7 linked regions of the Homo sapiens genome follow. The protein of the gene in region 1 purifies or fractionates together with the protein of each later gene. This does not show direct contact. Each region holds a gene or a part of one and is shown in the gene's direction. Other genes may lie near its edges.

Region 1 (4,468 bases):
TAGGACATAGGGAGGACATCCATTTAACAGAAGAAAATCTTGTTAAAGCTGTTTTCTGTGAGGCAGTGAATCATGAATACCGATCACAAGTACTCAGGCCCAGGATCCCTTATCCAATTGAAAAAGAATTATCCAGGCCACTTTTTTTGATTTTTGATTTTTGATTTTTTTGAGACAGTCTCACTCTGTCACCCAGGCTGGAGTGCATGGCTCACTGCAACCTCAACCTCCCTGGTTCAAGCAATCCTCCCACCTCAGCCTCCCAAGTAGTTGGGACCACAAACACGCACCACCATGCCCGGCTAACTTTTTTATTTGTAGGGACAAAGTCTTGCTATGTTGCCCAAGCTGGTATTGAACTCCTGGGCTCAAGCGATCCTCCCACCTCAAGCTCCCCAAGTGCTGGGATTACAGGCATGAGCCGTTGCCTACATTTTTTAAAAAACAGAGATTCTTAGACTCTAATCCCTGAAGATTCCAATTCGGTCAAACTGGGCTGGAGTCCTAGAATTGATATTTTGCACAGCTCCTCAATGATTCTGAAACAGAGCCAGGCCTGTGACCCTCCACAGTAGGATGCTGTTTACTTGCTTTTGCCCACTCTGAACACTAGTCTTGACTGCATTATTCAGAAAGGGCAGACTAATTGAAGCTTATTTATCTTTCAGTATGTCATTAAGTATTCTTTAACTTGGGATCTCTGAAAGACAAAAAGAGGAATTGGTTGTAAATGACACTGTAGAATAACAACTAAGTATAGTTATAATACTTGTGGACTGACGGTAAATATTTACTATAGCGTAGCAGCAGTACTTAGTGGAATTCTGATAATAATTTCTAATTCTCCTTTAGTAAGAAATTCATGAACACTTGTCTTTCATGTGCACTGTGAGTTCTGGTCAGGTCCAAATTCCAGGCACCATAATCATGTCCTGACTATTTCTGTCTCCTATCAGTCCGCACTGGCTGTTGCCATCAGGGTTTTTTTTTTGTTTGTTTTTGTCTTTTTTTGTTTGTTTGTTTGTTTGTTTGTTTGTTTGTTTTTTGCGACGGTGTCTCGCTCTGTCGCCCAGGCTGGAGTGTAGTGGCGTGATCTCGGCTTACTGCAACCTCCGCCTCCCAGGTTCAGGCGATTCTCCGGCCTCAGCCTCCTGAGTAGCTAGGACTACAGGCACGTGCCACCATGCCTGGCTAATTTTTTGTATTTTTTTAGTGGAGACGGGGTTTCACCTGTTAGCCAGGATGGTCTTGATCTCCTGACTTCATGATCCGCCCTCCTCAGCCTCCCAAAGTGCTGGGATTACAGGCGTGAGCCACCGCGCCCGGCCACCATCAGGGTTCTTATTTGCAGTCTTTGCTTATCCTCCCCTACCTTCGATCATCCTCCCCTACCTTGTAGGCGCTCAGGGGTGTTCCTATTTAGCCAATTTAACAACACCTCTTGGTATAGTTAGAGCAAGGATAACTGCTCCTCCTTGACAGGAGGGAAGACTGCAGGGACTCTTCACCTGAATTAGAGGCACTTTTTTTTTTTTTTTTTTTTTTTTTTTTTGAGATGGAGTCTCACTTTGTCACCCAAGCTGGAGTGCAGTGGCGGGATCTCAGCTCACTGCAACTTCCGCTTCCAGGGTTCAAGCGATTCTCCTGCTAGAGGCACTTTTTAGGGATGGGTAAATGTTTCTCCCACTACCATCATTGCATTTTTCTTTATTCCTGCTCTTTGATGATGCTGTATTAATGCAATTGTATACTGGTCCCCCCTTATCCTTGGGGGATACATTCCAAGACCCCCAGTGGATGCCTGAAACACAGATATTACCAAACTAATAATATACTATGAACGAATTTTTTTTTCCTTCTTCACAATTTCACAGATAGAAAATTTCTTTCTTACTGTAGTTCTTAGCAACCTCAGCATAGGATTTTTTTTCTTTCCTTATTAAGTAGAGAACTTTCCCCTTTTCATTTACAGGAAGGCCTTTAGTGCTCCTCGTTGGCATATCCAAATTGCCAGCATTACTACTCTTGCACTTTGGGGCTGATATTAAGTAAAATAAGGGTTCCTTGACGGTCAATCTGATAACCCAGATGGCTATTAAGTGACATGGGCATGGAGCACAGACAGTGTCGTTTTCCTGGACAAAGGGATGATTGGTGTCCCGGGCAGGATGGAGAGGGATGACATGAGATTTCATGGAGCTACTCAGAAGGGTGCACAATTTAAAACTTATGAGTTATTCATTTCTGAAATTTTCAGTTTAATATTTTCAGACTTCAGTTGACCGCGGGTAACTGAAACCATGGAAAGCAAAACCAAGTGCTTCCCCATATATTCTCATTTTACAGATAAGAAAATTAAGGCCCAGCAAGGAGACAGAATTGCTGGCCGGGAGTAGAATTGGGATTGGGAGATCAGATGCCTGATCTCTGCATGCTTTGTCCTTATAGTGTGGTGAATGCTATCATAAAAGGGACATCACATGAATGAAAAGAGAAGCCATGGGTTTGGGGACCTACTCTTGATTCCAGGCCGTAAGCCAGTGCATGTCTATGTGCAAAACTTGGTGTTGGAGTGGGCAGCCTGAACCCAGGTGTTGGGCCGTCCTGTAGCACATGGAAAGGTCTCTCTCACATGTTGCCTTCCCTGCCATTTCCTCTCCCTTTTTGCACTGGTTATTAAACCTACGTCCACACATGTGGAAAAGGTGACTTGTGTCTTGCTGTGAACCACAGTCTTTCCAGTTCTGGAGCTCCTCTCCCTGGTTGTAAAATGTCACTGATGAGACACTCATTGTTTAGGGTTGTAAGAAGCAAGTTAACGTAAGGCTAAAAGTGCAGGCTCCAGAGTCACACATTGCATTGCTTAAAAGCTGTGTCACTTTGTGCAGGTCATTTAACACTTCCACACAACTCCATATAATCATAGTACCAACTCTACTGGTGGCTGTGATGATTCAATACTGTCATACAAATAAGGCACTTAGAATAGTGCCTGAGTTTGGGGGTTTGTTTTGTTTTGTTTTGTTTTGTTTTGTTTTGTTTTGTTTGAGACAAGGTCTCACTTCCATTGCCCAGGCTGGAGTGCAGTGGTATGATCCCAGCTCACTGCAGCTTTGAATTCCCAGGCTCAGGTGATCCTTGCACCTCAGCCTCTTGAGTAGCTGGAACTACAGGAGTACGCACCGCCATGGCTGGCTAAGTTTTGTATCTTTTGCAGAGACAAGGTTTCGCCATGTTGCCCAGGCTGGTCTCGAACTCCTGGCCTCAAGCCATCCTCCTACCTCAACCTCCCAAAGTGCTAGGATTACAGGCATGAGCCACCTCACCCAGCCTCTGAGTTATTAATTGTTATAATTATCATTATAATTATAAATTAAAATTATTATAAATTATAATTACTATTTGATTATAGTTTTAAAAAGTAATCTTAGGCTAGAAGTTCCTAAGTTCCTTTGAGCACAATTTTGGAACTCTGATTTGCAAATTTTGTAACAGAAATTAGAGCTAATTCCTTTATAAAAATCCAGGAAGAAATAATTATTTTAATTCACCATTTCACATATGCTGAATTGTTTATTTTGAAGATGTATTAACATATAGGGAGACCATACCAGCATTTACTACCAGGCATTCTATGGCTCATGAGGTGCACCAAATATTTTGTTAAATGAATGTTTTATTTTATTCAGAATCTCTTTTCAATGAAGCATCTCACAGAACTAGTTCCATGGCAAACACTTTGGGAAATACTGAACCACAGTCTTCCCATTCATACTCCTGTTTGTTCTGAAAACATCTTATGTTGCACTTTCAAGTAGACAGAAGGAAGTAGCAGGGGCTTTTCTAGAGCCAGTGGTGGCCGTCAACAGTTCAGGCAACTTTACTTAGCTTGTCCTTGCCCACTTCTTCCTCATTTGGAAACTGCTCTTTATCCTTCAAAACTCAGCTCGAATATCCCCGCTGCTGAGACATTTTCTCCAACTTCCCCATTAGTTGGTTCTTTCTCTAAGCTTCTACAACAATTTGTATACATTAATGGTGTCATCTCTTAGGTGGGAGGTGATGGAAACCATCACATTGGCTGAAAATTGTGTATGGTCACAATTTTTTAAGGTCACAGCTTAAGAAGCTGTCCCTTTGGAGATCAGTATATTTGGTTTCTCTAAGTTGACACAGTCTGTTCCTCTCTCTGTCTCTGAGACAGATCATATTCCATCAGTTAAGTATGAGTTGAGGCAGCTGGCATGTATCTAGAGGCCATGTTTAAGGAAAAACACTGATTTTTAATTACTGTGAAATCAATTGTGTGGATGGTAGATTCTCCGCTGCCTTCTCTAGCTCACTCTGGGGCATAGACTGATTGAGTGGAATGGTAAGTAGAAGATTCCGGAATACAGTACAGAGAAGGTCCTCCTTATCCGCAGTTTCTGCATCTGGATTCAACCAACCGTGGCTTGAATAAAGACAA
Region 2 (3,500 bases), on another chromosome or scaffold:
CTGTCTGCAGTCCCCAGCATAGAGCTTTGTATGTAGTAGATGCTCAATAAATGCTTGCAGAATCTAAGTGAACTAGCAACTAGAGTTAACTAACAAGAGAATGGGCCATATAGCGGGGGGTATAGCAAGTCACACTCTTTAGGAATTCTAGGAGATTCCTACACTGAGAGGGGATAGGTCTCTCCAGCTAGGTTATTTTATGATGTTATAAAGTGCTCTGCTCTGAACTCTTGCCTTTTCCCACCTACCTTTATTCATTTAGCAAATATAGTTAATGAGGCTCTACTGTGTGCCTGTGCCTTGGTCCTTGCCTCCAAAGAATATAATCTAGTAAAGAGCAGCAGATATGTGTAGACAAACAAATGCAATACAGTAGTATAGGTGCTAGTAATGGTGTTTAGATAGCCCTGCCATTTAGTGGTTGCATTTAACTTTGAACAACTCTCTAAATTTTCCATTTCCCCAACTGTAAGAGTATGTAAAATAGTACCTTTCTCTCGGGGTTGTGAGAGACCAAAATGAGTTGTCCTAGGCAAAGCATTTGTGTGGCTAGCATATTACACTGGCTTTGTTAAGTGGTACCCCTCATTAGTGCGATGATGATTAGGAGTCCATTGTATGGGGTAAGGACTGATGTCACGAAAAGGTTTCTGAGAGAAGATGATTCTTGCTTTGGACAGGAGACTCATTCTTCTACAAGTACTGGCTGAGTGCTTCCTATGAATGGCAAAGCAAAAGTGAGTTGCTAGAAATATACAAAAGGAACCCAACTAACTAAGGAAGGAGGCAGCAGTTAGATAATTATTTAATTACGGTTGTGATGAGTGCTTGTACAGAAAAGTCCAGTATGCATTGAGAGTATATAATTTGGAGATCTGTCCTAGTCTAGCAACCTAGACTAGATCAAGAAACTTAGGCAGAGGTTTCTTGGGGAAAGTGATATTTGAGTAGAATCTTGAAGGATTAATGGGACTTAGAAGGTGTAAAGGGCAAGGGTAGAGTGTACAGGCAGGAACAGCACCTTCAAAGGCTTGGGATGACCTCAGAAGAACGGGAGACCAGCAGGGCCCTGGGTAGGCATTGTGAGGTGTTTTGTTTTGTCTTTAATCTTAATGGAAATAGGAAAACACAGAAAATTTCAAAGTAAGAGTCTGACGTAATCAGATTTAGAAAGATCATTCTGGCTTCTGGCGTGGAGAGTGGCTTGGTGGTTGGACCTCTACCCACAGTAAAAAACACATTTTACTTTGGGACCTGGCATACACAACCTTCACAAAACAATGCCTGCCCTTGAAACAATACATAGTTTCACTCCCTGCTCTCTGATATTTTTTATTCTATTTTATTTCAATTTTATAAAAACCCTGGCTTTGACCCGCTAATGGGAGTTGGAATCCATAGTCTATAGATTGTGAAACTAGATGTCTCTTTAAGATCACTTCCAAATCTGATCATATGTGCTGAAATACCATTCCTCTAGCTTTTGGCCTTTCCTGAACTGGGTCTAAAAAGATTAGCCATTGTTCACCCAACAAACAGCAGGGGCGGCCTAAGGCAGGGCAGTGCAGGCTAAGGATGTCCACAGCACAGAAGTCTGCAGAGGGGCACAGTGATACAAGTAGTTGGGAATGGCTGAAATAAGGATGGATTGACAAGAGGCCAAGTGTGGTTGAGGATGTGTACCTCAATTTCTTTTTCTCTAAAATGGGATGATAATAATTACTACCTCAAAGGGTTGTTTTGAGGATTGAATGAGATAATGCATTCAGGAAACGTTTTCTGTTGATGTTATTGTATTTGCATTATCGTTGTTACTATGGAGGATCTTGGAAGGTGCCATATTAAAGACTTAATTTTGTGGACTATGGAGTTGTAAATTGAGGGAACAAGATCAGATTTGTGTTTGATGACAATTCTGCAGATATAGGGGGTGGCCTAGTGTAGGGGTATGAAGCCAGAGGTAGGGAGAACAGTTAACTGGAACCTAGAAAATTGAGCAAGGGGTATGATCAGGCAGCTCACAGAAGAAATATAAATGACTAATAAAAGAAGGAAAGATCCTTGACTATATTGGTGATCAGAGAAATGCACAGTTTAAAAAGATAGGAGTTTTTGTAATCAAATTGTCAAAAATTTAAAACATTGAAAATTTCTGATGTTAGAGCTTTGGGAAAAGGGCATTTTCTAACTCTTGTTAGTGAGAACATAAATTTGTACAACCTGTTTAAAGGACAATTTGGCAGAACTTATCAAAGTTGTAAAGGTTCATTCTCTTTGACCCAGGTGTTGTACTTTAAGGAATTTATCCCATTAGACTTGCCTACAAGTACAAGGGTTTGTGTGCAAGGATAGTTATTGTAACATTAGGAGTAGCCAGAAATTTCAGGCAGCTTGTCTATCACTAGAGAAAAAAACACACCATGATGCATTCATACATGCTATCTTTTGTAGCCATTCAAAAGGTCATGGTGGTTCTGTAAAGCATTGTTATGGGAGAAGATCCATGGTGGGAAGACGCCTGCTGCAGAATAGTATGTGTAGCATGTATCATCTCATTATTGTGTTTTATATGCATAGAAAAAAATCAGGAAAAACATACATCAAATAGTGGGTTTAATTAATTGCTCCTAATCAAGCAAGTAGTTGGAAGCAAGGGAATTAAGGGCTTTAATGTTTTATGTTAGATACTTGTTTAAATGTTTTAAAAATACTTTTGGGCCGGGCGCGGTGGCTCACGCCTGTAATCCCAGCACTTTGGGAGGCAGAGGTGGGCGGATCACGAGGTCAGGAGATCGAGACCATCCTGGCTAACACGGTGAAACCCCATCTCTACTAAAAATACAAAAAATTAGCTGGGCGTGGTGGCGGGCGCCTGTAGTCCCAGCTACTCAGGAGGCTGAGGCAGGAGAATGGCCTGAACCCGGGAGGCGGAGCTTGCAGTGAGCCGAGATTGTACCACTGCACTCCAGCCTGGGCGACAGAGTGAGACTCCGTCTCAAAAAAAAAAAAAAAAAAAAAAACTTTTGGTGATCACCTTTTCATTTATCTCTTTTTTTTTTTTTTTTTTTAAATCTCTCTCTGTCACTTAGGCTGGAGTGCAGTGGCACGATCTCAGCACACTGCAACCTCCACCTCTCGGGTTCAAGCAATTCTCCTGCCTCAGCCTCCCACGTAGGTGGGATTACAGGCGTGAACCACCATGCCTGGCTAATTTTTGTATTTTTAGTAGAGACGAGGTTTCACCATATTGGTCAGGCTGGTCTTGAATTCCTAACCTCAGGTGATCACCTGCCTTGACCTCCCAAAGTGCTGGGATTACAGGCGTGAGCTACTGCACCCGGTTCATTTATCTCTTTTTGCAGGCATGCTTATATCACACCTACATAAGTTTACACACGTGGGATCATTATCACATATCATTTTTATTGTGGACCCCTCCCCTTATGGGCATCCAACCTCCATTTCCACATTCCGCCCTGTACTCAGGTACCTCTTGATAT
Region 3 (4,468 bases), on another chromosome or scaffold:
TACAGGCGCCCGCCACCACGCCCGGCTTTTTTTTTTTTGTATTTTTAGTAGAGATGGGAGACGGGGTTTCACCATGTTAGCCAAGATGGTCTGGATCTCCTGACCTCATGATCCGCCCTCCTTGGCCTCCCAAAGTGCTGGGATTACAGGCATGAGCCACCGCGCCCAGCCTTTCCTTTTCTTTTCTTTTTTTTTTTTTGAAACGATGTCTCGCTCTGTCGCCCAGGCTGGAGTGCAGTGGCGCGATCTTGGCTTACTGCAACCTCCACCTCCCAGGTTCAAGCAATTCTCCTGCCTCAGCCTTCGGAGTAGCTGAGATTACAGGTGCACACCACCACACCCAGCTAATGTTTTGTATTTTTAGTAGAAATTGGGTTTCACCCTGTTGGCCAGTCTGGTCTGGAACTCCTGACCTCAGGTATTCTGCCCACCTCGGCCTCCCAAAGTGCTGGGATTACAGGTGTGAGTCACCACGCCTGGCTACTGTTCTAAATTTTAAAAAGAGGCCGGGCGCAGTGGCTCACGCCTGTAATCCCAGCACTTTGGGAGGTCGAGATGGGTGGATCACAAGGTCAGGAGTTTGAGACCAGCCTGGCTGATATGGTAAAACCCGTCTCTAGTAAAAATACAAAAATTAGCCGGGCGTGGTGGCAGGCACCTGTAGTCCCAGCTACTCAGGAGGCTGAGGCAGGAGAATCGCTTGAACCTGGGAGGCGGAGGTTGCAGTGAGCTGAGATTGCACCACTGCACTCCAGCCTGGCAACAAAGCGAGACTCCGTCTCAAAAAAAAAAAAAAAAAATAATAATAATACAAAAAATTAGCCGGGCATGGTAGTGCACGCCTATAATCCCAGGTACTCGGGAGGCTGAGGCAGGAGAATCGTTTGAACCTAGGAGGTGAAGTTTGCAGTTTGCTGAGATCTCACCACTGCACTCCAGCCTGGGCAACAGAGCGAGATTCCATCTCAAAAAAAAAAAGGCCAGGTTCGGTGGCTCACGCCTGTAATCCCAGCACTTTGGGAGGCCAAGGCAGGTGGATTGCCTGATGTCAGGAGTTCGAGACCAGCCTGGCCAACATGGTGAAACCCCGTCTCTACTAAAAATACAAAAACTAGCCGGGTGTCTTGGCGTGTACCTTTAATCCTAGCTTTTCAGGAGGCTGAGGCAGGAGAATTGCTTGACTCCAGGAGGCGGAGCTTGTAGTGAGCTGAGATTGTGCCATTTGCACTCCAGCCTGGGCAACAGAACAAGACTCCGTCTCAAAAAAAAAAAAAAAAAAAAGTCTGGGTGCAGTGGCTCACACCTGTAATCTCAGCACTTTGGGAGGCCGAGGCGGGCGGATCACGAGGTCAGGAGATCGAGACCATCCTGGCTAACACGGTGAAACCCCCTTGCTACTAAAAATTTAAAAAATTAGCCGGACGTGGTGGTGGGCGCCTGTAGTCCCAGCTACTCGAGAGGCTGAGGCAGGAGAATGGCATGAACCTGGGAGGCGGAGCTTGCAGTGAGCCAAGATTGCGCCACTGCACTCCAGTCTGGGTGACAGAGCGAGACTCCGTCTCAAAAAAAAAAAAAAAAAAAAAATAGAGTGCCCTTGCTGCTGAGTCATGTGTATCTTTCTGAGATCCAGTATCTTTCTGAGGTCCAGTGCTTTCATGAGAATCTCAAAGGACTCCCAACCACCCCGCCATGGGGATCCCTCCAAAACATCCTCTCTCCATGTTCCAGGGATGGGGCTGGCCTGGGGGGAAGGAGTTTGCTGTGACCAATACTCAGCAGGTACCTGTACATTGACAACCCCCTGCCTTTTCCAGACCACGTGACCAGAGAGAAGCTGGACCGCATTCTGGCCGTTATCCAAGGCTCCCATCAGAAGGCCCTGGTGATGTGAGTAGGGCCCTCAGGGAGGTACTGGGAGAGCAGTAAGTGCCCTTGGCTCCCGTAGGCTCCCCCAAACCTGGGGCAGATTCCATGGATCTTGTTTTTAGAGCCCAGAACCAGACGGGAGCTACCTGTTTCTTTCTTGGCATTAAGAAATGGTTCTGTGTGCCAGGTCTTGGGTTGGCCAACGGGAGGCCAAGAAGAGCAAGAGAACCAAGCTGTCCTGCTGAGAGTATATGATCTAATGGCAAGGAAACCAGGGACCACATCATTGGAGCACAGAGCCCAAGGGCAAGAGCAGCCAAGGAGTTAAGAGCTTGGGCTCTGGAGCCAGCTTGCCTGGGTTTCCTGACTCTACCAGGCACCTGGTGATGAAGGAGGGCAGGAAAGGTGGCTGGAGGAGCCACGGTGGCAGGGCACACAAAGCAAGTGAGGAGCTTCCAGAGAGGCACCTCATGTGGGGGAAAGGGTAGGTGGGCCACCCAGCTGCAGCCCCCTTCCTGATCTGCAGGTACTCCAACCTCGACCTGAAGACCCAGGAGGCCTATGAGATGGCCGTGAGAGGCCTGATCCGGCCCATGAACAAGTCCCCGATGCTGATAACTGGCATCCGATGCCTCTACTTTGCACCTCCGGAATTCCTCTTAGGTAGGTTGGCCAAGGAAGTTGGAGCAGTGAGATGGGACCCGTAGGTTTGGGAGTCACTCAGGAACGCTCTTGCAGAGGTCACTGTTGTCTGGCTCAGCTGAGGCCAGCACACGCCGGCCCTGATCTCTGCGGGCCAAGGCATCAGGTGCCGACTTCCTTCCCAGCCCTGGCCTGGACTTGGCTGATGACAGAGCTCGCAGAACAAAAGCTCTCCTATCTCTTGCCAAGTCACCCTTGGAAGCCAGACCTTACCAAGCAAAGGTTATATTTAGTGGCTTATTTCCAGAGCTGCCCATGTTTGAAGCTGTGAGGGCTCCATCAGACACAACTCTTACGTCCCCAGTCCCACCCAGCTCAGGCCCCTCTTATCTGTGTTCCTTTTGTCTCTGCCTGCGCCCGCCCCTTTTTTCTGTTGGTCATGTTAATGCCTGCTCCTCTGCTTGAGCACAGAACTCTGTTATTAAGATAACATCTTAATAACATTTTAAAGATAATCATTTATCTTTCTATAAATGATTTCTTTTACTCCTCATAACTCCCATTTTACAGATAGGGAAACCGAGTCTTAGTAAAAGGCAGGTTCTAACCTGGGCAAGATGGCGAGACCCTGTCTCTACAAAAAATAAAAAATTAGCCAGTTGTGATGGCTCAGAACGTCCCAGCTACTCCGGAGGCTGAGGCAGGTGGATCATGTGAGCCTAGGAGGTCAAGGCTGCAGTGATCTGTTATCACACCACTGCACTCCAGCCTGGGTGATGGAATGAGACCCTGTTGCCAAAAAAGGGCAGATTCTGACTTGGCAGGTCCCGGTGGGGCCTGAGGTTCTGCAAGTCTTAACACATTTCAGGTGGCACCCACAGGGCAGGTCCTCTGAATAGCACAACCTGGAGAGCTTAGGGGTCTTGCTAAGGTTGTTACACACCTAGGAGGTATCCAAGGGGTGTGCGTTCACAACCACACACTAGAGGCTGTGCTCTCACCACCATGTCTGTCATTGTGTGTCCCTGGCAGAGGTGCAGTGCATGCATGAGACGCAGAAAGAGCTGCGGAAGTTGGTTCATGAAATCGGCCTGGAACTAAAGACCACTGCTGTCTGCACCCAAGTGCGGCGCACGCGCGACGGCTTCTTCACGCTAGACAGTGCCCTCCTGAGGACCCAGTGGGACCTAACCAACATCCAGGATGCTATCCGGGCTGCTACCCCTCAGGTAGCTGCAGAGCTGGAGAAGAGCTTGAGCCCGGGGCTGGACACCAAGCAGCTCCCCAGTCCGGGATGGTCCTGGGACTCCCAGGGCCCGAGCTCTACCTTGGGGCTGGAGAGGGGTGCGGGGCAGTGAATGCCCAGGCAGCTCCTGGGGCAGTGGATGGATAAATAGAAGAACTGCTATGAGCTGGACCTGATAGCTGTGCAGAAAGTGAGAGCAGGGGCACCTTTTCTACGTAAGACACAAAACTCAAGCTGTAACAGAAAGGTCAATGGACTTGACCCAACTGAGAAGGAAAAACTTCTGTATGGAGGAAAAGACAGTAAACATGACAGACTGATAGAAAGTATTGGCAGACCAGGCGTGGTGGCGGGCACTTGTAATCCCAGCTACTCCCAAGGCTGAGGCAGGAGAATTGCTTGAGCCCAGGAGTTTAAGGTTGTAGTGCGCTAGACGGCGCCTGTGAATAGCCACTGCACTCTAGTCTGGGGAACATATGAGACCCCTGCCATCTCAAAAAAAAAAAAATTCTCAATAAACTATGTGCCCACGAAAATTAAAAATTAAAAAAAATTGTAAGTATTTGCAGTGTCATTAACCAAGGACTAATATCCATAGTATACAGAGAGCCCTTAGAAAGCAATAAGAAGACAACGACAAAATTAGGCAAATGAGATGAAGTGTGTATCAGAAGAAATCCAAATGGCTAGTAAGCCAGAAATGACACTCAACCT
Region 4 (3,824 bases), on another chromosome or scaffold:
AAAGATTGATAATTAAGCAAAAGATAGCAGACACAGCTGAGGTATGTAGAATGCTCCCTGAGCTCACAGAAAAGAAAAGGGGCTTCCAGAGAAGAAGCACCTCTCAAGTTTTCTGGAATGTAGGACTTCTTGAAATGATCAGCCCAGGGAAGGAAGAACAGAAAGGAATGCTTGGAGAAGTGACTCAGAGCATAGGTCGGAGAGCCTGAGGGATGAGGCTGGTGTGGCGGGCGTGCCTTGAGAGCACAGTGGGGAGAAACCTGATTCGTGGAGGAGCCACACAGTTTGGGCTCAGCTATCTGTGCTGTCCTTTGTTAGCCATTCAACCTTGGCTGAGTGACTTAACTACTCTGTGCCTTCATGTTTTCTGTCAGTAAGATGGGGATAATCACACCAGCTCATGATGTTCATCATTTCTCTTCTTGTCATTGATTAGCTTTCTGTGATCCACTGTGACCTGGAGAGACAGGGTCAAGTGGTGAGCTCAGGATTCTGGTGACCCGAAATAACCCCCACTGCTCAGGAGAGCCTGGATGCCGTGCATGGGGCCAGAGGGGCCTGTGCTCATGCTTGCAGGGAAGCACTGTGCAGCTGGCGGGTAGTGGGCAGTGTATTTTCCCAGCTAGGATGCACTTTCTCCATGTGTTGTCCTGGGAGTGGCCCATGGCCACCCAGCCTCCAGGGTCCTCAGGCCCTGTGGCACCACTCAGGGTAGGAGCTCCTCTCCTCATCTGATGGGTTGCCAAAGTGCTAGAAGTCAGGGGACTGGGCTGAGCCAGTGAAAGGTATTGCTGTAGGGGTGTGTGTGTGTGTGTGTGTGTGTGTGTGTGTGTGTGTGTGTGTGTATGTGTGTGTGATGCATGACATGCAAATGCATGTCCGGGAAGCCTGCCCCCAAGTCTCATCTCAGGCCATGTAACACAGACTGTCTTTCCTCCCCAGATCCGGCCCCACATCGCAACTCTTCGTAAGTACACCTATGGCAAGCACATTCTGGCCAAGCTGGAGAAGTACTACATGAAGAACGGTGTTGACTTAGGGCCCATCTGTGGCCCCCCTAATGGTATCATCTGAGGCAGTGTCACCCGCTGTTCCCTCATTCCCGCTGACCTCACTGGCCCACTGGCAAATCCAACCAGCAACCAGAAATGTTCTAGTGTAGAGTCTGAGACGGGCAAGTGGTTGCTCCAGGATTACTCCCTCCTCCAAAAAAGGAATCAAATCCACGAGTGGAAAAGCCTTTGTAAATTTAATTTTATTACACATAACATGTACTATTTTTTTTAATTGACTAATTGCCCTGCTGTTTTACTGGTGTATAGGATACTTGTACATAGGTAACCAATGTACATGGGAGGCCACATATTTTGTTCACTGTTGTATCTATATTTCACATGTGGAAACTTTCAGGGTGGTTGGTTTAACAAAAAAAAAAAGCTTTAAAAAAAAAAGAAAAAAAGGAAAAGGTTTTTAGCTCATTTGCCTGGCCGGCAAGTTTTGCAAATAGCTCTTCCCCACCTCCTCATTTTAGTAAAAAACAAACAAAAACAAAAAAACCTGAGAAGTTTGAATTGTAGTTAAATGACCCCAAACTGGCATTTAACACTGTTTATAAAAAATATATATATATATATATATATATATAATGAAAAAGGTTTCAGAGTTGCTAAAGCTTCAGTTTGTGACATTAAGTTTATGAAATTCTAAAAAATGCCTTTTTTGGAGACTATATTATGCTGAAGAAGGCTGTTCGTGAGGAGGAGATGCGAGCACCCAGAACGTCTTTTGAGGCTGGGCGGGTGTGATTGTTTACTGCCTACTGGATTTTTTTCTATTAACATTGAAAGGTAAAATCTGATTATTTAGCATGAGAAAAAAAAATCCAACTCTGCTTTTGGTCTTGCTTCTATAAATATATAGTGTATACTTGGTGTAGACTTTGCATATATACAAATTTGTAGTATTTTCTTGTTTTGATGTCTAATCTGTATCTATAATGTACCCTAGTAGTCGAACATACTTTTGATTGTACAATTGTACATTTGTATACCTGTAATGTAAATGTGGAGAAGTTTGAATCAACATAAACACGTTTTTTGGTAAGAAAAGAGAATTAGCCAGCCCTGTGCATTCAGTGTATATTCTCACCTTTTATGGTCGTAGCATATAGTGTTGTATATTGTAAATTGTAATTTCAACCAGAAGTAAATTTTTTTCTTTTGAAGGAATAAATGTTCTTTATACAGCCTAGTTAATGTTTAAAAAGAAAAAAATAGCTTGGTTTTATTTGTCATCTAGTCTCAAGTATAGCGAGATTCTTTCTAAATGTTATTCAAGATTGAGTTCTCACTAGTGTTTTTTTAATCCTAAAAAAGTAATGTTTTGATTTTGTGACAGTCAAAAGGACGTGCAAAAGTCTAGCCTTGCCCGAGCTTTCCTTACAATCAGAGCCCCTCTCACCTTGTAAAGTGTGAATCGCCCTTCCCTTTTGTACAGAAGATGAACTGTATTTTGCATTTTGTCTACTTGTAAGTGAATGTAACATACTGTCAATTTTCCTTGTTTGAATATAGAATTGTAACACTACACGGTGTACATTTCCAGAGCCTTGTGTATATTTCCAATGAACTTTTTTGCAAGCACACTTGTAACCATATGTGTATAATTAACAAACCTGTGTATGCTTATGCCTGGGCAACTATTTTTTGTAACTCTTGTGTAGATTGTCTCTAAACAATGTGTGATCTTTATTTTGAAAAATACAGAACTTTGGAATCTGGGTTTGTGCTTTATTTTAACCTCTCCCCCCACCCCACCCCCAGTGTAGTTCCCCAGGACAGCCCTTTCCTGCTCATGCTTCTTTCTGCTTGTTTTGTTGTTTTGTGAGGGTGGGAGGAGAGGTGCCAAACTAATGGCTCTTTGAGCCCAATTTAAACCAAAGATGTTTGGTTCAGCCTGCCCAGTGCATTCAGAATCAAGATACTGCACATACAAATCCAGATTTCCAACTCTGCACATCAGAATATTCTCCTTGGGCCCCTGAGATGAGCTGTCTGGGTTACAGCACCGTCTGTCTGGGCCTCTCCTCCTCCGCGTTTCCTCTGTTTGGGCTGCTCCATTTGCTCCCTGCCAACCTGTGCCCACTACTGAGGCCTGCCAAGCAGTCCAATGTCTGAGCATGCTCATCTCTTCAGACTGGGGAGCCTCTTTTAGCTTGTAACACAGGAGGCTGGAGCTCACAATTGTGCCCGTGGCCCTAGCCTGAGGATGCCATCTGCCCTTCTTCACCGACTTTGCTCCAGGGGCAGATTTGGTAAGTGTTGGCAGTTACAGGCTGGGTCCAGCCAGAGAGGCCAGGTGGAAGCCCACACCAGCTGGTGTCTGGAAGTGGAGCGTCAGGATGGTTGAAGGAACTTCACATGGGCCCCTCAAGGGGAAGGGCTAATCACTAACAGGCCCTGGGAATAGGGGGAGAAGAAAAGGAAGCTGAGGGGATGCAGGTTTCCAGTCCAGCATGTGATTTTGCCTCAGCAGCTGTCGTTGGGGCCCTTTCCCAGCATTCCCCACTGCAGTAGCCATCATGGCGCTTGCAGAGGTGGCATGCTGCGGGCATTGGGAACTGCAGTCCATGCTGCTCTGATAGCATGATTCCAGTCAGATTGACCTGGGGTCACATGTGGGTCTCGCCACTCTGTGTGCACTTGGGCAAGTTAGTTCACCTCATCTTTCACCAAATTCCTTGCTGGAAGTGGACCAAAGGTAACAGATCTATGTAAAGTGGCTCTCTTGTCATGTCATGGGAAATTATGGCAATTAAATTGTGT
Region 5 (4,468 bases), on another chromosome or scaffold:
CCTGAAAGACATTTTAGATTTGTTTGATAAAAGTCAAAATGAATGACATTCTAGTTTAAAACTAATCCACAAATAAAACTAATAAAGGCTTTCATTTCCCAGGTAGGCTGGGATTGTTCATCAGGCCTAATTTTTTTTTTAATAAATGTGGTCGATTCATTTACAAAGATTTAATACCCAAAAGTTATATTAATTTTAAAAGTCATTCAGGTACAGTAAATACAGAACATTTCCCAAGTATCTGATTAGTGATACATTTATTTTCTAGTGGAAAAGCTTTTGGATTAGCAAAGAACTGTATGATTTTCTTTTCCTTTCTTCATAAGGAAATTTTTATTCACAAAGGGTCACTTTTTGTTTGAAGTATAGTTTATTTGGTTTACATGAAAACTCACAGAGCTCAGTTGGAGTTATACATTTGACAAGTTTATTTAATCTAAATCTCAAGAAAAGATGAGATGAGTTTTCACAATTCCTCAGAAGAACTTTTACAAATCCAGTGTTACTAAGGCTCACTGTGCATGTGTAGCCTGGTCTGTTTCTATTGTAGCTTGCCTAGTGACATGGCTGAGCAATTCAGGTCTTACTACAGACTGACTTTGCCTGTGTGTAGATCTTAATGACTGCGTGTGATAAGAATAGCTAAATTATTTCAGCATTACAGCTTCTGCCGAATACAGCTAAGTGATCATTTCTCCATTGACCTACAGAAAACATTTAATTTTTCCCTTTTCAAGCTCCTGCTTTTATAGAAAACATTTAATTTTTCCCTTTTCAAGCTCCTGCTTTTATTTAAATTTCCATGATAATTTTTGCTTATCTTCTGCTTTAATTAGGAAAACATCCTGTAGAAAATAAATTTAAAATGAATCTGTCAAAAGTTAGGCAAGCCAGTGGATTACAGTGAAATCTGTCTTAATTTTAAAAATTGCTCCCCTTCATAATTCTTTTGTAAGTAGTGTTTGCAACATGTTTTTTCATCCTATAAACAATAATTCCTTTACGTCATTATAGTACATTAGAGTTTTTAAAATTAATGCATCAAAAACTAACTTCAAAAGACTTACGTAGTCTCATAGAAATTTATGATTTCTTTCCTTTTGACTATCAAATATCAGAGTTTTTACTTGCTCTGGATATAAGGAGTAAGATGATTTTTAAAGCAAAGGTCTTCATTAAACATATTTTTTAAATTCCCTACTGGTAGTAATTGCATACATAAAAAGAAAACTGTCATCCTGTTTCTACTCTTCTGTTTGAGTAAAGGGAGGATTCAGATTTGGGCCAAGCATCTAAAGTCACTTTGGTTTGTATTGATATCTTTGAAGAAATTTAAAGCAATAAAAGAGCCTTTTTGCAAAAGTGAGTTTACTATGGAAATTGTCTTGTGTGCCTGCCTTTCATTCTGTGCTGTGGGCCCTGAACAATATATAGTTTCTGTTCTTTCTCTAAAAAGGTATTGGAGCCCCTCCCAGTCCTGGGGTAGCTAGGAGAGAGATGGAAGGTAACAAGACTCTTGCATTATAGAAGTGGTTCTCTCATTTTATTTCTCAGTGTCAGCGCCCCACCTCCCCACCCCGCAGTGTTTGCAGGCATACTAAATCTTTTCTTGGTCCAGCTGTAAACTTCTCTTTCCCCTCCTTATGTATACCTTGTATTTTTTCCTCTCTTCATTCTATGTCACCTATAGTTTCTAATGGATATCCATTTAATTTCCCTGAGATCCTTAATGTTGTTTGTACTCTGTTTCATATATAGTTTATATATGCCCAGGTTGTGAAATTACTGTTTAAGAATGTCTTCAAAATTCTTTTCAGAATAAGTAAAATATTTAGAAATGTACTTTACTAATCTGAAGTTTTAAAAATTAATGATTATAATTAAACCCTATTAATTCAGATCCAAGAATATAGTATTTTGTAGTTGATTTCAGATAACATAGCTATTTTATAGATTAGCACTGAGCCAGATTTGTTTAAAAGACCTTTAAGACTAGAGGCCATTTGTTATGATTTTAGTTATTAAAAGGCTGATGTATTTCTTATAACAATTGTACTTGAATTTCTTTACAAAAAGGAGAGTTTATTTAAGATGCTGCCCTTGATAGTCACTCCTACTCCTTTTGGCTCCAAGAGTAATTTATTTCATTTTATCCTTCAGCTACCTTTCTAATGAGTTTGAACATATTTTTAACACTGTCTTCCATAAGGCAGATATTTGGTAATAACATATGCCTGTCTTCTGTCTTAATGATGGGATTTTGTTATAGAAATCCGAAAGATCTCATCATAAGATAACCTTATCCACAGTGACATCTACAGCGTGAAGCCCTAAAGTATTGCTACTAGGAGCCTCTTGTGTAATTTGACAAATGCAGTCCTGTCTGTTGCTCAGAAGCCACTTGTCTGCCAGACTCTAAGGGGCAGCAGTGCCGCATCTTGTGACCATTCACACAGCTGACTGTATGTTTTCAAGGTTCACGAGAGAGTTCTATGGGGAATGCCACCCTAAAAGTGGTCCCATGAGTGAGATATCAAACTAAAGTCACCACTTGTCTCCCATAAAGGTCTATCTAAATATTGTAATTTTTCTCTCTTTTGGAGTATTTCATTCAGGACTGATAATACCCTTCATCATTATACAAAGCAAAGTGCTTTGTTTTGTTACCATCTCATGCCCCCATTTCTGCTGGTAATGAAGCAGAACAGCAAGCTGATGTTATGCAATATTGCTTAATTGTTAACTTACAACTAATTTTTTTTTCCCTTCTTGCTTCAAAGCACCCAAAAGCCCTGGAACAACAAGGAAAGATAATATAGGTAAAAACACTTGAATGTAGCTATTCACCCTTAAAACTGGACCGTGAAATAGACACTTGGAATATAAGTACATGGTTTCTTGTTTATTTTTTTAAACTTAAATATATGATATGATGTCTTTGTTCCAGGACGCAGTCAGCCTTCACCTCAAGCAGGACTTGCAGGCCCAGGACCTGCTGGATACAGTACAGCCAGACCGGTAGGTAAAACCTCGCCTGGGGCCAAGGGGTCTCGGTTCTAAGTCCTGTTTACTACTAGTCAGTTTTGTTACCTTGGAGAAATCATGTGACCCTTCAAGGCCTCAATTTCCTCATCTCTAAAATGAGGGAATTGCACTTGATGATCTTCCGACTCTAACATTATTTTAACATACTCTTCAAAAATAACAAACTTCATTATTTGGATAAAAGTGATACACTTAAAACAATTATGGTCACTAAATAAATATCTTAAGAGTCTCAGTATATGAGGAAATGATGGATTTGGGCAGCTTTTTATCATTTTACCTGAGTAATTAATGAAGATATAAAGTAATCCTTCATTAAAAAGGATTTTAATTACATTTCAGAAAAAAAAATGATAAATTCAGTATAGTAAAACTGGTTCTAAAGGTTTTTTTCTCTTTTTGGTTTTTTTCTTGATCAGGTTCATCATATTCCGTAAAGGTATTAGAAATAGGAGAGTAGATGTTGTTACAGGATTTTTCCCTACCTGATGAATGTGTCTTTTCTGTATGTTTATATGTTCTCTTATACACATAGGTTTTTTATTATTTGAAAACTTTCTCTGGACTATAACAGGTAATCAAGAACAGAGAGAAAGAGCAAATAGAAACCAGTAATCAGTGACTTAGGCTAGTCCAGTAGGAGCTGGGACTACTGAGAGGCCCATATCTGAAGAGTAGGAAACTGAGAGCTATTACTGTACCTAGAAATTAAGATTATTAAGATTGTGAGAACTGAGGAAACCACTTCCTATGAAGATAGAAGCTTTTTGTCTTTTCTGTTGTAGCTGTCCACTTAACAATCTGAAGGTTCTTTTTTATATGTAATATTACTCTTCAAATATTTATCCTCCTTTTTTCAAAAAAAGGGAAATTTGCCATTCACTGATCCCATGACCACACTTGGCACAAGAACTTTCTTGATTCTGTTGAATACCATAAGTATAGGAAAAGAAAGTCAGGATTTTTGTGAGTTTAAAAGTTCATATTTTGCTTAAAATAAATATTGTTAGCTTAGATCCTTCAGCAAACATATGAAAATAGAAAAAATATTTTTCACTGATGAGTCTTTCAGTGTATTTAATTCGGAATATTGAGTTAGTCATTCAAAAGTTGTACTTCTGTGTTTAAAAGCAATATATATGGCTGGGTGGCAGTGGCATGCACCTGTAGTCCCAGCTACGCAGGGGACTACATTGGAAAGATCGCTTGAACCCAGGAGTTCAAGTCTAGCTGGAGCAACATAGCAAGACCCCATCTCTTAAAAAACAAATCTTGACCAGGTACGGTGGCTCACGCCTGTGGTCCCAGCACTTTGGGAGGCCGAGGCGGGTGGATCATGATGTCAGGAGATCGAGACCATCCTGGCCAACATGGTGAAACCCCATCTGTACTAAAAATACAAAAAATTAGCCGCGTGTGGTGG
Region 6 (4,468 bases), on another chromosome or scaffold:
TGGGCGTGGTGGCTCATGCCTGTACTCTTGACACTTTGGAAGGCTGAGGTGGGAGGATTGCTTGAGCCCAGGAGTTGGAGACCAACACTGACAATATAGTGAGACCCTGTCTCTACAAAAAAATTAAAAGTAGCCAGGCACAGTGTTGTGCATCTGTAGTCCTAGCGACTCAGGAGGCTGAGGTGGGAGAATTGCTTGAGCCCAGGAGGTCAAGGCTGCAGTGATCTATGATCTCATCACTGCACTGCAGCCTGGGCAACAGAGCAATACCCTGTCTCAAAAAAGAAAAGAAAAGAAAAGAAAAGAAAAATTGATTGGAAATGTCCATCAATAGGGATTAAATTAAGGTACATTTATCTGGTAGAGAACCATGTAACTATTAAAAATGAGATTGTAGGCTGAACGTGGTGGCTCACACCTGTAATCTCAGCACTTTGGGAGGCTGAGATGGTGGCACATGCCTGTAATCCCAGCTACTTGGGAGGCTGAGGCAGGAGAATCGCTTGAACCTGGGAGGCGGAGGTTGCAGTGAGCCAAGATCGTGCCACTGCATTCCAGCCTGGGTGACAGAGCGAGACTCCATCTCAAACAAAAATAAAATAAATAAAAATGAGATTATAGCTGTATGTACTAATTTTTAAAATAGGTTAGCTGAAGAAAACCAGGAGTAGAATAGTGTATATAGTGTATTACCACGAAAATAAAGGAAAAAAGAGGATCTACATATATCCGTGTGTGTGCCTCTGTATGAATAAACTCTCTAGAAGAGCATACAAGCTTAGGTGGTTGCCTCTTAGAAGGGGAATTAGAAGGAGAGAGATTTCACTGTATACCTTTTGCAGTGTTTGAATTTTTTCATTACTCCACATGAAATGAATAAATTTCAGTGCATGTATATGTATATATATATTTATATATATATGGATGGATAGTAAAATGGTGAAATATTTCATTCACGTAAACATTTGTGATTAAGCTTAAAACAATTAGGATCTTCAAAACAAGTCCTTTTCATTTGAACTGTATAAATATGTTCCAAAATTTTATAGTAGTATTTTTTTTTTCATAGCATTTGATTTTATTTGTACGAAATGGATGAAATCCTTGCTATCTCTTAGGGTGGGATCTGCTTTTTCAACTCTGATTTCTAGTGCCTGGCATCTAGTTAGAGCTCAATAAATTTTTATTATACTGAATTATCCTTCATTTTCCTAACTAAGCATCTTTTATCAAGACATAATCATTCCTTTCAGTTCCCGGATTAGCATTAATTACTGGCATTTGCCATACATTGCATTTTTCTATTCCAAATTAGTATTAATGATTTTATGAAGAAGTAGCTGTCCCAAATAAATAAATTTCTTCTTTGTATTTTTAATCATTGAGATTATATCATTATGTTATCACTGAGAAGTAATTTAATTCTATTATATATGCAGACTTTCTAAAGAAGATAAAGCTTTTTTATGGGAGAAACGTTATTATTGCTTCAAACACCCAAATTGTCTTCCTAAAATATTAGCAAGCGCCCCAAACTGGAAATGGGTTAATCTTGCCAAAACTTACTCATTGCTTCACCAGTGGCCTGCATTGTACCCACTAATTGCATTGGAACTTCTTGATTCAAAGTAAGTCAAATACATTTATTTGCTCTTGTTTTATTGTCAGTTTTTCCAGTAAGGTATGTTGCCAGAAGTATTTCCTTTCCTTTTAACATGAAAGCAATTCAATATAATCCAAATGTGTAAATGTATATTTATACAAACATATCTTCTGCATTGAAGTTGTCAATAAAGCATTGCATGTCCTTTAAAACTAGCCTAAAGGAAGGGTTAGGTTGTAAATTTTGAATAATTTATATTTTTATGATGTGGGCCAGAATTAATTTTCATAAACTTAAGATTCCTAAATAATCCCTAAATTGAATCTGTATAGCACAATAAGATTGTCTTCTTACAAAAAGAAGAAATACATTGCTTTTGAATAAAAGAGATATCTTAGTGTTCTTTGTCAGGACCAGATTGAGATTGTGTTTTCAAAAAATACAGCTTCACTGGAAAGAAATCACTGTCCAATCTTGGTTTTATGGTAATCTTCTAGATTTGCTGATCAGGAAGTAAGATCCCTAGCTGTGACCTGGATTGAGGCCATTAGTGATGATGAGCTAACAGATCTTCTTCCACAGTTTGTACAAGTGAGTTTTTTACTAGATTACCTCCCTTTATACTTTCACTCTAGTTTTTTATGGGAACTTGCTAAGGGATCCCCATTCTGTTTAGATTAAAAGTCGTTTTTTAGTGTGGGAACATTGAGGGGCATTGCATTTGGATTTAGTGTGAATTTTTTCCCCACTATTGTCATCTGCCCCATTTGAATATTGTATATAGGCACCTGTATTTTTAGTTTTCAGACTTTTTAGAACAAACCAGACTTGAGCTTTTCCTTGATTTTTCTTTACTGGTGAGTTCAACATAGCTAATGAATGTTACTCTATACTTTTGTGTTTGATTTAAATTAGTTTGGCATAGGTTAATTCATCTATTTAATTTTTATAAGTATCATCTTTCATCAGTAAGAGTAATACTTGCTTTATATAGTTTCTCTTTTGATAGTTTTATTGGAACAATTTAGTATGGGTTAGACCACTAATAATTCTTATTTTCTTTTACTGTAGGCTTTGAAATATGAAATTTACTTGAATAGTTCATTAGTGCAATTCCTTTTGTCCAGGGCATTGGGAAATATCCAGATAGCACACAATTTATATTGGTAAGATTTAAATTTTATTGATTACCGTATTTCCATTCCTAGAATTTATAGAAATGGCATACCCTGTAAGTCTAAATGGTATGCCACACTACTTATTGTGGATACAAGATATTTTATTGAAGGTATTATTTTAAAGGAGCTAAATTTACCCTCTAATGCAAAAATTTGAAAACCCTCATTGCAAAAATTTGGTGTCTTATAGCTCTGTAATAATGAATGGGTTTCGACTTGCTTATATAGCTTAAAATACATTTCTGGTTATCAAAAATTGAGGCCAAGCGTGGTGGCTCATGCTTGTAATCCCAGCACTTTGGGAGGCTGAAGCTAGTGGATCGCTTGATCTCAGGAGTTTAAGACCAGCCTAACAATCATGGTGAAACCTCATCTCTACCAAAAATATAAAAAATTAGCCGAACATGGTGGCATGTGCCTGTGGTCCCAGCTAGTTGGGATGCTGAGGTGGGAGGATTGCTCGAGCCTGGGAGGTGGAGGTTGCAGTGAGGCAAGGTCATGCCACTGGACTCCAGCCTGGGCAACAGAGCCAGACCTGGTCTCAAAAAAAAAAAAAGAAAAAAAAATTGAACTTGTTATTTTTCAGAGAGGTTCACCTAGTTCTTAGAAGTGACTAACATGGCCGGGCATGGTGGCTCACGCCTGTAATCCCAGCACTTTGGGAGGCCGAAGTGGGCGGATCACAAGGTCAGGAGATCGAGACCATCCTGGCTAACACAGTGAAACCCCATCTCTACTAAAAATACAAAAAATTAGCCGGGTGTGGTGGCGGGCGCCTATAGTCCCAGCTATTCGGGAGGCTGAGGCAGGAGAATGGCGTGAACCCGGGAGGCAGAGCTTGCAGTGAGCCGAGATGGCGCCACTGCACTCCAGCCTGGGTGACGAGTGAGGCTCCGTCTCAAAAAAAAAAAAAAAAAAAAAAAACCAAGACGTGACTAACATAAATATTTTGCTGTATTAGGCTTCTCAAAGATGCCCTGCATGATGTACAGTTTAGTACCCGATACGAACATGTTTTGGGTGCTCTCCTGTCAGTAGGAGGAAAACGACTTAGAGAAGAACTTCTAAAACAGACGAAACTTGTACAGCTTTTAGGAGGAGTAGCAGAAAAAGTAAGGCAGGCTAGTGGATCAGCCAGACAGGTATGTACCCATAAAAGGTAATATAAATGTGTTAATGTTAAAGGAAGGATCTTTATGGTGCTGACTAATTAAGTTGCTATTCTTTATTGGTAGACTCCCAGTAGAACTCTAACTATACCCATGCTATTTGGGGCAGATAAATTCAAAGATTGTTTAAAATATATAGGAACATATTTCACAACCTATTAAAATCAGTGATTTTCCCATGCTTATTTATTTCCATGCTTATTTATTCCTTTCTGATGAAAATTGTTTTCTTGAATTCCTTTACCTCCACTATCAAAGTCCACAGTATTTTCATCACACCAAAAAGAAAGCATGTCCCCATTTTCCCCTCCCAGCCACTAAACTGTTTTCTGTCAATATGGATACGTCTATACTTCTATATGGATATTCTGGACACTTCATGGACTTTTCTGTCTAGTTTCTTTCACTTAGCATAAAGTTTTCAGAGTTCATCTGTGTTCTAGCATGTGTACTACATGCCATTTTTGGTTGAATAATATTCCATTGTGTGGATATACCACATTTGGTTTAAACATTCA
Region 7 (4,468 bases), on another chromosome or scaffold:
CCACAGGGCACAGGGATGTCATTTTAACATGTTCATCTGTACTCCAAGTTTTTTGTAAATTGTGATCTAGAGGCCTGATCAGATTCAGGTTTTGAAGTTTTTTCCCCTCCTTGTCAAGAATACTTTATCATAATGATGTATTTTCTCTCAGGTGGCACATAACATTTCATTTGATTGTCTCTCTTGTGCTATAAGCTGCCAGCAGTGTTCGTTAGGATTGCAAAATGACAATATACTAATTCTGTCAGTCGGTCTTCATTTATTAGGTGGAATACCTCTTCAAGAAGTAACTTTGCCTCATCAACTGTTCAGTTACCAAGAGGTATAGTTTGTTCAGGAAGGGCAGATTAATGTTTGATCTTCCTCCCTTTGTTAGCCAGTTTGCATAATTATGAGTTGATCTCTAATAGGTTTCATAGGTGACCAGTGAGATTTGGTGGTTTGTTTTCGTATCATTTGTTATTATAAGCTTATGGGCTCAAACGTATTTATTTTGGTCCATTGCAGTTAATGGATTGGATCAAATTGTCCCACCTTTGGTCAGTGGGACCCTATACATTTCCTGCCCCAGATCTGGAATTGGCCACTTTTAAAAGGAATTCTAGTTCCTTTCTTTTGGGAAATGGTATTTAGATACCAGTCTGAGTTATAGGGGTGCTTTATTGCTACTTGGTTGGTCATTCTTTCTAGATGATTTTTTTGTTTTTTGGTGAGATAAAATACATCATGGAGTTATTCTGTTTTGTTGTTGTTGTTTTTTTTTTTTTTTTTTTTTTTTTTTTTGAGACAGAGTTTCACTCTTGTTGCCCAGGCTGGAGTGCAGTGGCATGGTCTCAGCTCACTGCAACCTCCACCTCCCAGGTTTAAGCAATTCTCCTGCCTCAGCCTTCCAAGTAGCTGGTATTACAGGCATGCACCACCACACCCAGCTAATTTTGTATTTCTAGTAGAGATGGGGTTTCACCATGTTGGCCAGGTTGGTCTCGAACTCCTGACCTCAGGTGATCCACCCACCTCGGCCTCCCAAAGTGGTGGGATTACAGGCATGAGCTACCGCGCCCGGCCTGTTCTGGTATTTTCTATTAAAGGGTCTTTACGTAGACTTGTGGATCTTTTATTTTACCTACTGCTTTCTTCCATGCCCATAATCTTAATTCCTAATGATACCAACATAATTACTCATTTTGTTTTATTTCACAGTATGTCTACCGTCTTTTTTTTTTTTTTTTAAACATTTTTTAAAGAGAGAGGGTCTTGCTCTCACAGGCTAGATTGCAGTGGTGTGATCATGGCTTACTGCAGCCTCAACCGCCTGAAATCAGGCAATCCTCTTGCCTCAGCCTCCTGAGTAGCAGGATTACAGGTGCACACCACGTGTGGCTAATTTTTAAATTTTTTGTAGAGATGAGGTCTTGCAGTGTTGCCCAGGCTGGTCTGAAATTCCTGGGCTTGAGCCATCCTCTCACTTCGGCTTCCAAAGTGTTGGGATTACAGGCGTGAGCCATTGTGCCAAGCTCTACATTCTTACAATACCTCCACTACCACTGAAAACAGTTTTTCCACTTATACAGTATCTTCAAGTCATTTGAAAGAATCTTTGTGTGGTTTCACATTTAAATTGATATATATATTAGTTTTATTTTGCTTCCAAGTTTTAGAGATTGCTTTCTCCCTACCCCTATAATTTTCTAAGTTGTTTTACATTTGTGTAAAACATTTACGTGGTTCTAGAGTCTCAGCATGGTATAGTCATAGAAGTCTGACTTAAATTCTGTCACTTACACCCTTTCTTCTCTTACAGGCAAACTTTTTAGAACCTTTCCATTTAAGAAAAAAGCAAATGCCTCTACATGTATTTGTATCCTTGGTAAATGGAAATATACAACACATGGCATTTCTTCAATTCTTTTTTGTTTTAACTTAATATATCTGGGAGCTAACTGCAAAGTAGCAGTATATAATAGAAAGATATTCCTCATTCCTGTGTACAGTTGCATAGTTCACCATTGTGTGGAATGCTCCATGTTTTTTCAACTGCTGCTCCTATAGATGGATGTTTTGGTTGTTTTTTTGAGACTAGGTCTTGCTCTTTTGCCCAGGCTGGAGTTAGTACAGTGGTGTTATCAAAGCTCACTGCAACCTCAACCATCTAGGCTCCCAAGTAGCTGGGACCACAGATGTATGCCAGCGCCACCTTTTTACGATTTGTAGTGATAGAGTCTCGCTATTTTGCTCAGGCTGGTCTTGAACTCCTTTGCTCAAGCGATCTACCCACCTTGACCTCCCAAAATGTTGGGATTACAGGTGTGAGCCACTGTACCCAGCCTGCTTTTTTGATTAATATTTTGTGGGTTTATCCACCTCAGCACATGTAAAGTTGGTTGTTTTTTTGTTTGTTTGTTTGTTTGTTTGTTTGAGACGGAGTCTCGCCCTGTCGCCCAGGCTGGAGTGCAGTGGCACCATCTCGGCTCACCACAACCTCCACCTCCTGGGTTCAAGCGATTCTCCTGCTTAACCTCTCGAATAGCTGGGACTATAGGCGTGTGCCACCACAACCAGCTAATTTTTGTATTTTTAGTAGAGATGGGGTTTCACCATGTTGGCCAGGATGGTCTCAATCTCTTGACCTTGTGATCTGCCTGCCTGGGGCTCCCAAAGTGCTAGGATTATAGACGTGAGCCACCAGGCCCGACCTGTAAAGTTTTTTAATGTCTGAGTAGTGTTCCATCATGCATATGCTGTAAATATTTAAATTGCCTATGCGATGGCAAGTTAGGTATTTTATAGTTCTTTTTCTACTCTAGTTTTACTGTGAATGGCTTTTTGTCCAGATATTATACATACTGCTCCCTGTTTGTGCAAGTGTTCTCTAGAGCAGATTACTGGAAGTAGGATTGCAGGCTCAAAGAGTAAAAGGGTAGGTGTATTTATTATGCTGGTACCTCCTACAAGTTTGAACATCTCACATTATCTACCAGTCGTGGAAGATGGTGTCAATTTTCTTATATTACTGGTAGCATTGGACTCATACCAAGCTCAGGGGAACCCAGTTGTCTACCATTTCCAAGATCTTTCTGTCCAAGATTTTCTTCTTAATCCCCTCTTCCTTCTCCTCCCCTTCAGGCCCTAAAGGACAGCAAGGTGGTGGAGATCGTTGATGAGAAAGTTCGTAGGAGGGAGGAACCAGAAAAGTGGCCTCTTCCCCCAATAGTGGATTATTCACAGACTGATTTCTCCCAGCTTCTCAACTGCCCTGAATTTGTTCCCCGTCAGCACTACCAAAAGGAGACAGGTAGGTACCTGCTGGCATGAAGATTGCCCTTGTCCTCTGGGCAACAGTCCTCCTCAGGGCTGGCATCAGGAGGAGGACTGGAGGGATGAGGACTTCCCCTTTCCACCCTTTAGAGTCGGCACCTGGCTCTCCTCGTGCAGTCACCCCAGTGCCAACCAAAACAGAGGAGGTCAGCAACCTAAAGACACTACCCAAGGGCCTGTCTGCCAGCCTGCCTGACCTGGATTCTGAGAACTGGATTGAAGTGAAGAAGAGGCCTCGGCCATCCCCAGCACGGCCCAAGGTGGGTGAGGCCTTGTCCCTTGCCTTGGTTCTAGCACTCTGAGCTAGGGTGCTTGAAGGGGATAACACATGGGCACAGCACTCTAGCTCTGAGGGGCCAGCAGGAAATCTGGGTAGTTCAGGATCATAGTGTGAGTTGAAGTTACCAGTAGTGGCTACAGAAAGGTTGATTTGGCTTGTTTCCATTTCCTGTGGGGAACCACCCTTTAGGGCGCCCTACTGTGTGAGTTCCTCGGTGACATTTTTCTTAAGGGATCATGCAGCATCTGGCAGCGATGTTTCTGGCTTCTTGATTCTTGGCTCTTCTTTTTGCTCCATCTAAATTTCTGGGGCTGCGTTTTTGGTGTCTTTTCCCTGAGTATGTCCCCACTATCATGTATGTAAGCCCCTTAGGTCCTCAGAAGAAGGAAGGGAGAGGGAGCAGATGCATGGCCCAAATATGGAGTTAGTCTACACAAGTCTGCTGCACTAATGGCAAGGTGACCTTGGGAAGCCTGTTCATACCTCAAGGCTTCAGTTTCTCCATCTGCAGATGAAAGGAAGGAGACATTAGAATATTCTAGAAATAGTTTATATATATAAACAGATGAAGTTCACTGTTAAAGAAGTATTGCAATCTCTAACTAAAATTACTACTTCCTTTTTAAGTGCTGAATTTTTCTCCACATACCTGCTCACTGTCACCCACTTTGGAGACCTCTGGCCTGGGGCTTGTGAGGAGACTGCAGAATTGACCTTGAACTTTGGGTCTATGGAATTCTATACTCCCTTATCTATTTTCCCACAGTGATTACCTCTCATCTCCTTTCTCTTGCCTGCCTGTTCATACACAGAATTCCCCACAGTTGTGGCTTCAGCCCTCAAAAAGTGTTGGAGATCCAGCCAGAGACATGA

The links.
Region 2: the proteins of RBM47 (region 1) and MOV10 purify together in Homo sapiens (affinity purification with mass spectrometry; one large-scale study listed by BioGRID and IntAct). This does not show direct contact.
Region 3: the proteins of RBM47 (region 1) and TRUB2 purify together in Homo sapiens (affinity purification with mass spectrometry; one large-scale study listed by BioGRID and IntAct). This does not show direct contact.
Region 4: the proteins of RBM47 (region 1) and PUM1 purify together in Homo sapiens (affinity purification with mass spectrometry; one large-scale study listed by BioGRID and IntAct). This does not show direct contact.
Region 5: the proteins of RBM47 (region 1) and SYNJ1 purify together in Homo sapiens (affinity purification with mass spectrometry; one large-scale study listed by BioGRID and IntAct). This does not show direct contact.
Region 6: the proteins of RBM47 (region 1) and PIK3C2A purify together in Homo sapiens (affinity purification with mass spectrometry; one large-scale study listed by BioGRID and IntAct). This does not show direct contact.
Region 7: the proteins of RBM47 (region 1) and LARP1 purify together in Homo sapiens (affinity purification with mass spectrometry; one large-scale study listed by BioGRID and IntAct). This does not show direct contact.

Annotation. Positions count from the first base shown.
Region 1 is NC_000004.12:40,426,773-40,431,240, reverse strand, and holds part of RBM47 (RNA-binding protein 47), read left to right. Parts: intron 1-3,658; exon of another isoform or gene 3,659-4,453; intron 4,454-4,468. UniProt on the Homo sapiens protein: Single-stranded RNA-binding protein that functions in a variety of RNA processes, including alternative splicing, RNA stabilization, and RNA editing. Functions as an enzyme-substrate adapter for the cytidine deaminase APOBEC1.
Region 2 is NC_000001.11:112,677,659-112,681,158, forward strand, and holds part of MOV10 (helicase MOV-10), read left to right. Parts: intron 1-3,500.
Region 3 is NC_000009.12:128,308,948-128,313,415, reverse strand, and holds part of TRUB2 (pseudouridylate synthase TRUB2, mitochondrial), read left to right. Parts: intron 1-1,814; coding exon 1,815-1,887; intron 1,888-2,392; coding exon 2,393-2,529; intron 2,530-3,540; coding exon 3,541-3,866; 3' UTR 3,867-4,468. UniProt on the Homo sapiens protein: Minor enzyme contributing to the isomerization of uridine to pseudouridine (pseudouridylation) of specific mitochondrial mRNAs (mt-mRNAs) such as COXI and COXIII mt-mRNAs.
Region 4 is NC_000001.11:30,930,461-30,934,284, reverse strand, and holds the end of PUM1 (pumilio homolog 1), read left to right. Parts: intron 1-942; coding exon 943-1,074; 3' UTR 1,075-2,779; downstream 2,780-3,824. UniProt on the Homo sapiens protein: Sequence-specific RNA-binding protein that acts as a post-transcriptional repressor by binding the 3'-UTR of mRNA targets.
Region 5 is NC_000021.9:32,640,446-32,644,913, reverse strand, and holds part of SYNJ1 (synaptojanin-1), read left to right. Parts: intron 1-1,456; coding exon 1,457-1,504; intron 1,505-2,780; coding exon 2,781-2,819; intron 2,820-2,947; coding exon 2,948-3,018; intron 3,019-4,468. UniProt on the Homo sapiens protein: Phosphatase that acts on various phosphoinositides, including phosphatidylinositol 4-phosphate, phosphatidylinositol (4,5)-bisphosphate and phosphatidylinositol (3,4,5)-trisphosphate. Has a role in clathrin-mediated endocytosis.
Region 6 is NC_000011.10:17,116,946-17,121,413, reverse strand, and holds part of PIK3C2A (phosphatidylinositol 4-phosphate 3-kinase C2 domain-containing subunit alpha), read left to right. Parts: intron 1-1,439; coding exon 1,440-1,628; intron 1,629-2,100; coding exon 2,101-2,194; intron 2,195-2,674; coding exon 2,675-2,769; intron 2,770-3,742; coding exon 3,743-3,923; intron 3,924-4,468.
Region 7 is NC_000005.10:154,796,468-154,800,935, forward strand, and holds part of LARP1 (la-related protein 1), read left to right. Parts: intron 1-3,123; coding exon 3,124-3,292; intron 3,293-3,405; coding exon 3,406-3,575; intron 3,576-4,468. UniProt on the Homo sapiens protein: RNA-binding protein that regulates the translation of specific target mRNA species downstream of the mTORC1 complex, in function of growth signals and nutrient availability.